2 linked regions of the Homo sapiens genome follow. The gene in region 2 interacts genetically with the main gene of each other region. Each region holds a gene or a part of one and is shown on either strand. Other genes may lie near its edges.

The links.
Region 1: changes in ACOX1 (region 2) and TRPC6 together harm fitness less than expected from each alone (positive genetic interaction), as found in Homo sapiens cells (one large-scale study listed by BioGRID).

Annotation. Positions count from the first base shown.
Region 1 is NC_000011.10:101,574,008-101,577,507, forward strand, and holds part of TRPC6 (short transient receptor potential channel 6), read right to left. Parts: intron 1-3,500. UniProt on the Homo sapiens protein: Forms a receptor-activated non-selective calcium permeant cation channel. Probably is operated by a phosphatidylinositol second messenger system activated by receptor tyrosine kinases or G-protein coupled receptors.
Region 2 is NC_000017.11:75,951,597-75,957,243, forward strand, and holds part of ACOX1 (peroxisomal acyl-coenzyme A oxidase 1), read right to left. Parts: intron 4,352-5,647; coding exon 4,232-4,351; intron 4,086-4,231; coding exon 3,970-4,085; intron 2,025-3,969; coding exon 1,855-2,024; intron 1-1,854. UniProt on the Homo sapiens protein: Involved in the initial and rate-limiting step of peroxisomal beta-oxidation of straight-chain saturated and unsaturated very-long-chain fatty acids.

The sequences.
Region 1 (3,500 bases), on a different chromosome or scaffold from region 2:
ATCAGATTTGTTTAGCAACATTCTGGAACTGTTACTCAAAACAGTCTACCTCTATGTAATTGCAAACTCAGTTTAATTGTCTAGCACCAAAAGCTTTTGGTCTATTATGGATTCTTTAGATTGTTTTAAAGAAATCCTTCATCACCAATGTCCTTTTGGCACAGAGCACAATCCTGTGGAAAAATATGGGCACTGAAGCTTCTGAGTTGAAAAGTGATTCTGAAGACTCCATCCCCAAATGTGAAGGAACTTAGGAATACCATAACAAATTTGTTTATTTTTTAATTATGTGCATAAGAGTTATATATGATCCAAATCTATATCTAATTGAGTATAAAGAACTGTTTTAAGAGGTATAAAATAAAAATCTAAGATATAATTTAACTGATAACACTTCTTTTTGCTTATTTCTTAAAGATACATAAAATGTCAGAGCAGGTTACAATTGATAGAAGCTTAGACTTCATGCTATATGGTATTCATTGGTTACCCTAAAATGGTGCCTAACATACCAAAGGAACTTAAACAAATGTTTGTTGAAATAAATTAAGAATCTTTCCAGATGGAATACAGTGTCTGGCCCTGAATGCCCCTCCAAGAAAAGGGTTCCTGCAGAAATCCCTCCCCTAGGTTAAGTGTGGGGATTTTCTTACTGCCCAGGATCAGCTTTTTATAGCTGCTTCTGCCACCCTTCAATCTACTCTATACAAAATTCTGTTTCAAGAAGGCTAACTCAGTAATAACAAAAATGATTTTTATCTGTAACAGTTTAGCTCCCTAAAAGAATTTTTAAGTTACCTTTAGAAATTGCCATTTCTAATTCTTATTTTGACTCCTAACTCTCAAGATAATTTTATTAGCGATTCCCATGAAAAGAACTCTTCCTAGTTTTTTTGTTTTTTCTTTTTTTTGTGAAGGTTTTGTGCTACTACAAGTCAGGACAAAATGCTTTTTGTATCACAAACCAAAGCTGGTGCAATGGAAACATGAACTCTGCTTTGAATAGGCAGTCAATCTTAACATGACTATCCACACTGTAATTGATTCCTGGCAACTTATATTTTTAGACGAATACCATGTAAATGCTTTAAAAATTATGCAAATCTTGTGGTTAAATCCCCAGTTTCACACTGTCATGTGAGTCAATGTCTCTAAAACAACCTGCATTATAGCATAGAAGCAGTTTTATCCACATGATGGCAATGAAAAGTAAAAGAAAGCCTTGCCTTTTGCAATCTTTAGTCATGATCAGTTTGTGGATCTTTGGTAACATTAGCAATCGACACAATTTTGTTAACATTCATAGTCTTCCTTTGGTGACAAAGACTGGCAATTTTTCAAAACCTAGTTTCACTCTTTATTGAAATAAGAGATAAAACAAAATCCTTTGCTCTTCCCTTTCTTTCTTCCCATTTGTGCCAACTGCTAGCTGTGTAGCATTTGGCAAGTCACCTACCTTCTTTTTACTGTCATTCTTTTTTCTTATCAGTAAAGTGAGGATTATAAAAATGCATATCTCATAGGTTTGTGATACGGATTAAATGAGTTAATACCTACAAAGCACTTGGAGAAGGGCCTAGCACACAGAAGTCGCTAATAAATCTAGCTATTATTTCTATTCTTGCTGGACATAATCATATAAAATCAACAGAGATGAATGAATAAATAGATTAATGAATTAATGAAAGAAGTGAGATATAAAGCTTGACCTCCAAAGATGGCTAAGATTTCAACAGAAAGAGAAAGTGGGGGTTAAACATACTTATTACTGCTATTTATGCCCTTTTCTTCCAGTCTTCTATCCGTACCCAGGATATAACTTAGATATAATGAGCACAGCACAAGGAATGTTGGTTCAGTAGATCAGAGCCAACGTGTGGCTTTCCAAATTCCTATGAAAAGGGAGAAGAGAAGGAATGGGGGTGAGTGCGCTTTTGAAGAGCATAATCCACCTGTATCCAGCTGTGCCTGGCTGAATACTGAGAGAATAGAGGACTGAGATATGGGATACTGAGAGAATCTGCCAGCCCCATGGTCCACGTGTTCCAGCCCCAAATATATTGGGTTTTGCCCACTTGACAACAACCTACTGGCTGTGTAACTTACTGCACATTGTTTAACATTTCTAAATTTCAGCATTGTTCTTTATAAAACGGATGCTAAAAATAGCTGAGTAGATGCTCTGAAGATCAAATTACATTTGTATGACAACTAGAAAAGAACCTGCTACAGAATAGGTATTCAAAAAATGTTAGTTGCCCCAAATATATATAAATATTTTGGATTAGTCCTCCACAGAAACAGCAACTTACATTAAACTGTATGTAATTCTAGTTAACATCATTTCTCCTCTTTGTCATGGCTGAGAGCTGAATTAGGTGGAGAACAGTTATGCTGCAATCATATAGGTTGTTTGAGTATGTGTAACACTCATTTCTGTATTCTGCTCTAAACAGAGATTCTATAAGAACTGTGATTCAGTCAGTTCCAATGGCTTAAAGCCTCTTGAGCAGCATACCAAATTTTAGATGCCAAAGTTTAATTGAAACTTGGCATATGGATGAACACTTCTGCATGTATTGAAAGCCATCAGAAGATTCCTAAACAAAGAGCAATCACACACATGGTAATTTTATCCAACTGGAACCAATTATATTTGGCATTTTTTATGAAAGAGGGAGAAAAATAAGAATGGACTCAAGAAAATGTTTTCCTTTTATGACTTTTACCCTCTTTAAGATGAATTGCCTTATGAAGTTACTTCTTACAACTCAAGGAGCATAAACTGTCTAGAGAAAAAAAATTATGCAATGTCTTCCTGGAGGCAAACATTTTGTTACAGAATAAATGTGGACTTTTAAGCACATCTGGCAATCATTCCACAACCTACAATGCTGGCACCCTAAAAATGCTTCACGATAATAATATGTTACCAGTAGAGTTGATTACTTCAAGCCAGGGGAGGTTTCAACACAAAACAGGTCATTTCCATGCAGAATACAGAGCTTCAAAGTCATCAGCTATGAGACCCACCATTAATCCAAGTGGTTGGGGGAGACGATTACTCCTAATAGAAGGGGAGCCAGATTTGAAGGTGGTTTTTACACGTGCTTTTCCCCTGGAAGAGCAAGCTTCCACACTGCAATCTTTCACCAAAGTCTAGGTCTTGGCTTTATGGTTATAGATGCCATTTCAAAGGGTATACTAGATTATAGGATTCTTTCTGCGTTCTAGACCACTACATATGTATAAGAAATCATTGTGTCGCACATGTTCTCTTTTATTGATTTCACTTACCATTCAATAAATATGTCTTGTTAAGAAAATCAGCCCTTTAATTTTATTTGGAAATACCTCGTACTGCTGCTGGACTGTCATGTTCTGATGTGACTGCCCCTTTGGGGTCAGAGAGTAAAGCCACACTTCTGTAGGTCAGTGGTGGTATCTTTGCTTAAAGGAGTAGACATATCTAATGTCAATCATCTAGGAAAGAAGGAGAA
Region 2 (5,647 bases):
AAAAAAAGTAGTAAGTAAATGTTTATACAGAACTTTCTATATGCCAGGTTCTAATCTAAGCACTTGGTATTTTAACTTATTTAGTCCTCTTAAGGGCACTGTGAGGTAGTTACTATTACTATCTCCATTTTACAAATGGGAAACTGAGAGGTTAAGAATCTGCCTGAGGTCACACAGCTCGTATGTGGCAGGTCTTAGATTTAAATTGAGGCTTTTTTTTTTTTTTTTTTTTTTTTGTGATGGAGTCTCCCTCTGTCACCCAGGCTTTAGTGCAGTGGTGCGATCTTGGCTCACTGCAAGCTCCGCCTCCCAAGTTCAAGCGATTCTCTTGCCTCAGCCTCCCACAGTGGTGGGATTACAGGCATGAGCCACGGTGCCTAGGCTATTTGGCTCCCTAAGACCATGCTGTAATTACCTTGTACTGCGTAGGCTGACAGAATTTTCTGGCTGCAAAGTCCATATCTGTCCTAGTCTTTCCAGTATGACTAAGAAAACCGTAGCTCATAGCAACATACAAAACCAACGCTAGTCAACCTAATAAGAAGGCAATGCCAAAAAGCTCTACTCACCAGATGGCTGAATACATTGTATTTTGACCACAATCTTGGAGAAGACCCAATGGATGGTGTTAAATATTTTGAAGTGTAAGAATTAGCAAGGGTCTCATTGTATCAATTCCTTTATTCCTTTTTAAAAATGTAATTATTATTATTATTTTTTGAGATGAAGTCTCTAACACCCAGGATGGAGTGCAGTGTTGTGATTTCGGCTCACTACAACCTCCACTTCCTGGGTTCAAGTGATTCTCCTGCCTCAGTCTCCCGAGTAGCTGGAATTACAGGCACCCGCCACCACACCCAGCTAATTTTTGTATTTTAGTAGACGTGGGGTTTCTCCATGTTGGCCAGGCTGGTCTTGAACTCCTGACTTCAAGTGATCCACCCGCTTTGGCCTCCCAAAGTGCTGAGATTACAGGCGTGAGCCACTGCGCCTGGCCTTAAAATTTAATTAACTTTTAATTTTTTTGAAAATAGACCAGCCTGGCCAACATGGCGAAATTCCGTCTCTACTAAAAATACAAAAATTAGCTGGGCATGGTGGCGTGCACCTGTAATCCCAGCTACTCAGGAGGCTGAGACAGGAGAATCACTTGAACCCAGGGTGGCAGAGACTGCAGCAAGCTGAGATCGCGCCACTGCACTCCAGTCTGGGCAACAGAGTGAGAATCCATCTCAAAAAAAAAAAAAAAAGAAAAGAAAATAGAGACAGGGTCTCACTATGTTGCTCAAGTTGGCCTCAAACTCCTAGGCTCAAGTAATCTTCTTGCCTTAGCCTCCCAAAGTGCTGGGATTACAGGTGTCAGCTACCACACCTGGCCAGTTTCTTTATTCCTTAGGAGTAAAAAGAGTATCAGGGAGTATCAGTGAAAGGCAGTTGTAGGAATAAACTGTGGCTATGAATGCAAAAGGGAAACAAATTTAATGTCACTTTCACCATGCACAATTTACAGTTGCTAGTAGTAATCAGAACTTTCAAACTGCCTTTAGTGTGTTGAACATTTCACTTATAAAGTTCAAGTAATATTATTACTATTTTTCTTAAAAAGTTAAAAATAATAAGGTGGGTATTCTCTTTTTTTCTTTTTTGGCAGTCACTGATTATAGCAAGGGTGGTTATTTCTGTCTTTCCTCTTAAGAAAAGGAAGCCTAGATATGAAATTACAGGCCCAGTTATCACCCTAGCCAATTTTGCAGTGCTAATGCATCTTCTGTATTGACATTTGGGAATTCTGGGATCTGAATGGGGTAAAAACTAGGCCTTTGGTACTGAGCCCATCTAGGACCCTATCCTTACCCTGGCTTGATTTCAGACTGGTGCCTCACAGCGCTGTATCGGATGGCAATGGTGCACGCCTTAGACAGAGCCCGAGCAGCTTCTCCCACAAGGAAGGACCTGACAAACACCATGGTCCCGTAAGTCAGCTTGTTACTCAGCGGTTTCACGTATGTGCCATCAGGCTTCACCTGGAAGAAGAACGTGGAACTGATACTTCCTTCTTTTAAGCCCAAGAGGCAGTTCAGTGGTTCTCAAAGTGTGGTCCCTGGAATAGCAGCATCAGCATCACCTGGCAACTTGCATGAAATACTACATCTTAGTCCCCACCCTGACCAACTGAATCAGAAACTCCAGGGTAGGGCCTAGCAACCTGGGCTTTAACTGGCCTTCCAGGTGATTCTAACGCATGCAAAAGTTTGAGAATCATTGGTTTAGCAAATCAAAATATGTCCTTCAACCCTGACAACTGTTTCTGATTTCACTGTCGCAGTAAAAGAAGCATCAGAGTGGGCGTGATGGCTCACGCCTGTAATCCCAGCACTTTGGGAGGCCAAGGCAGACAGATCAAGAGGTCAGGAATTCGAGACCAGCCTGACCAACATGGTGAAACCCCATCTCTACTAAAAATACAAAAATTAGCTGCGTGTGGTGGCACGTGCCTGTAATCCCAGCTACTCAGGAGCTGAGACAGGAGAATCGCTTGAACCTGGGAGGCGGAGGTTTCAGTGAGCTGAGATTGCGCCACTGCACTCCAGCCTGGGTGACAGAGCAAGACTCTGTCTCAAAAAAAAAAAAAAACCAAAAAATGCTGGGTGCGGTGGCTCATGCCTGTAATCCTAGCACTTTGGGAGGCCGAGGCAAGAGGGTCCCCTGAGGTCAGGAGTTTGAGACCAGCCTGGCCAACAGGGTGAAACCCCACCTCTACTAAAAATACAAAACAATTAGCTGGGTGTGGTGGCGCATGCCTGTAATCCCAGCTACTTGGGAGGCTGAGGCAGGAGAATCGCTTGAACCCAGGAGGCGGAGGTTGCAGTGAGCCAAGATCACGCCACTGCACTCCAGCATGGGTGACAGAGACTCTCTCTCTCAAAAAAAAAAAAAAGGGGCATCAGAAGGAAAAATGCATTATTAGCTCCTTTTTTTTTTTTTTTTTTTTTGAGACAGAGTCTCGCTGTATTGCCTAGGCTGGAGTGCAGTGGTGTGATCTCGACTTACTGCAACCTCTGCCTCCTGGGTTCAAGCGATTCTCCTGCCTCAGCCTCCTGAGTAGCTGAGATTACAGGCGTGTGCCATCACACCCGGCTAATCTTTGTATTTTTAGTAGAGACAGGTTTTCACCATATTGGTCAGGCTGGTCTTGAATTCCTGACCTTATGATCCATCCTCCTTGGCCTCCCAAAGTGCTGGGACTACAGGCATGAGCCACCGCGCCCAGCCTTATTCCCTCCTTTTATGAGACGGAGTCTCACTCTGTTGCCAAGCTGGAGTGCAGTGTCATGATCTCTGCTCACTGCAACCTCCGCCTCCCGGGTTCAAGCTATTCTCCTGCCTCAGCCTCCTGAGTAGCTGGGACTACAGGTGCGCACCACCACGCCCAGCTAATTTTTTGGTATTTTTAGTAGAGATGGGGTTTCACCATGTTGGCCAGGATGGTCTCCATCTCTTGACCTCATGATCTTCCCGCCTCAGCCTCCCAAAAGTGCTGGAATTACAGGTGTGAGCCACTGCGCCCAGCCTCCTTTTTTTTTTTGAGACAAGGTCTCACTGTCATCTAGGCTGGAGTACGGTGGCATAATCACAGCTCACTGTAGCCTCGGCCTCCCAGGCTCAAGTGATCCTCCCACCCCAGTCTCCCAAGTAGCTGGGACTACACACGTGTGCCACCATACCCAGCTAGATTTTTTTACTTTTTGTAGAGATGGGTTCTCACTATGTTGCCCAGACTGATCTTGAGCTCCTGGGCTCAAGTCATCCACGCACTCAGCCTCCCAAAGTGCTGGGATAACAGGAATATGCCAGTGTGCCCTGCTGTTATTACCTTCTAAAAGAACAGACCATTCTAACCCTATTGTGAGTAACAGCCACTCAACTCCACTGTTTGATGCCTCTGCTTTATTTTCTATCAAAACATACCTGGGCATACTTCATCAGCATGTTTTCTCTGGGAATACGATGGTTGTCCATTTTGAGGTAGCCATTGTCTATCTCATCATAACCAAATTTGGGGCCGATGTCACCAACGGTAATTCCTACCACAGATGAAAGGACAGTCACGAGATGTTTATGCTCTGGAATTTCTGGCTTTTGCTCCGCCTCTTCAGTTGGGCATTCTACCTTTTGCAGAAGAAAGTGCTCAGTTTCATTTTCATCTCAACATCAGATGAACAGTTCTTACCTGGCAAAGGCTTATGGGTCCCGATTTCACGAATAGGTACGATAAAGGCATGTAATCCATAGCATTTCCCCTTAGTGATGAGCTGGGCAAGAACTATTGCATGATTTGAAGTCTTTCCAACTGTAATATCAAAGAGAACAAGGGAGGGGTGGGCAAACGTTCATACATTTTTAAAGGGTAGAAAAAAGAAGAAAGAATATGTTAAATCTAACACTAGACTAAACCAATAGTATGTGTCCAGAAAGCCTTTCTGCTGACAGCATCACACCTAGCTTTCAGAAAGAAATTCCCTTAAGCTAATAGTTATTACTTTCTTTTCTACTTATTTCTCATACATTTACGTAGAGAAAATTTTAGGATAAAAATAAGAATATTAATTTAAACTACTTCCTTGTTATCCCTTAAGGCAGTGCTGTCCAAAACAGTAATCACTAGCTACATGTGGCTTCTTACATATAAATTATAAATAAATAAAATATATAATGTGAATAACAAAATCCTTCAACCACTAACTGTATTGGAAATATATATTCCAAGATAATAACTCAGAATGGAATAAGAAGATATAAAAGTTTCGGGTCAGCCGGGCACGGTGGCTCGCGCCTGTAATTCCAGCACTTTGGGAGGCCGAGGCGGGCAGACCAGAGGTCAGGAGTTTGAGACCAGCCTGGCCAACATGATGAAATCCCATCTCTACTAAAAATACAAAAATTAGTTGGGTGTGGTGGCACGCTCCTGTAGTCCCAGCTACTCAGGAGGCTGAGGCAGGAGAATCGCTTGAACCCAGAAGGTGGAGGTTGCAGTGAGCGGAGATCACACCACTGTACTCCAACCTGGGTGACACAGTGAGACTCCATCTCAAAAAAAAAAAAAAGTTTGTGTTAAAACTATTTAAATTTTTTTCTTTTTTTTTTTTAAGAGACAGGGTTTCACTCTGTCACCCAGGCTGGAGTGCAGTGGCATGATCACAGATAGTAGCTCACTGCAGGCTTGAACTCTTGGGCTCAAGTGGTCCTCCCACCTCAGCCTCCTGAGTAGCCAGGACTATAGGTCTATAGGTATGTGCCGCTATGCCTGGCTTTCCTCTCTCTCTCTCTCTCTCTCTCTCTCTCTCTCTCTCTCTCTCTCTCTCTCTCTCTCTCTCTATATATATATATATATATATATATATATATATATATACACACACACACCTCTCTCTGTCTATATACACACACACACACCCCTCTATGTACACACACCACACACACATATATTTGTTTGTTGGGTTGTTTTTGAGACAAAGTCTTGCTGTGATGCCCAGGCTGGAGTGCAATGGTGCAATCTTGGCTCATTGCAACCTTCCCGGGTTCAAGTGATTCTCCTGCCTCAGCCTCCCAAGTAGCTGGGACTACAGGTGTGCGCCACCACACCCGG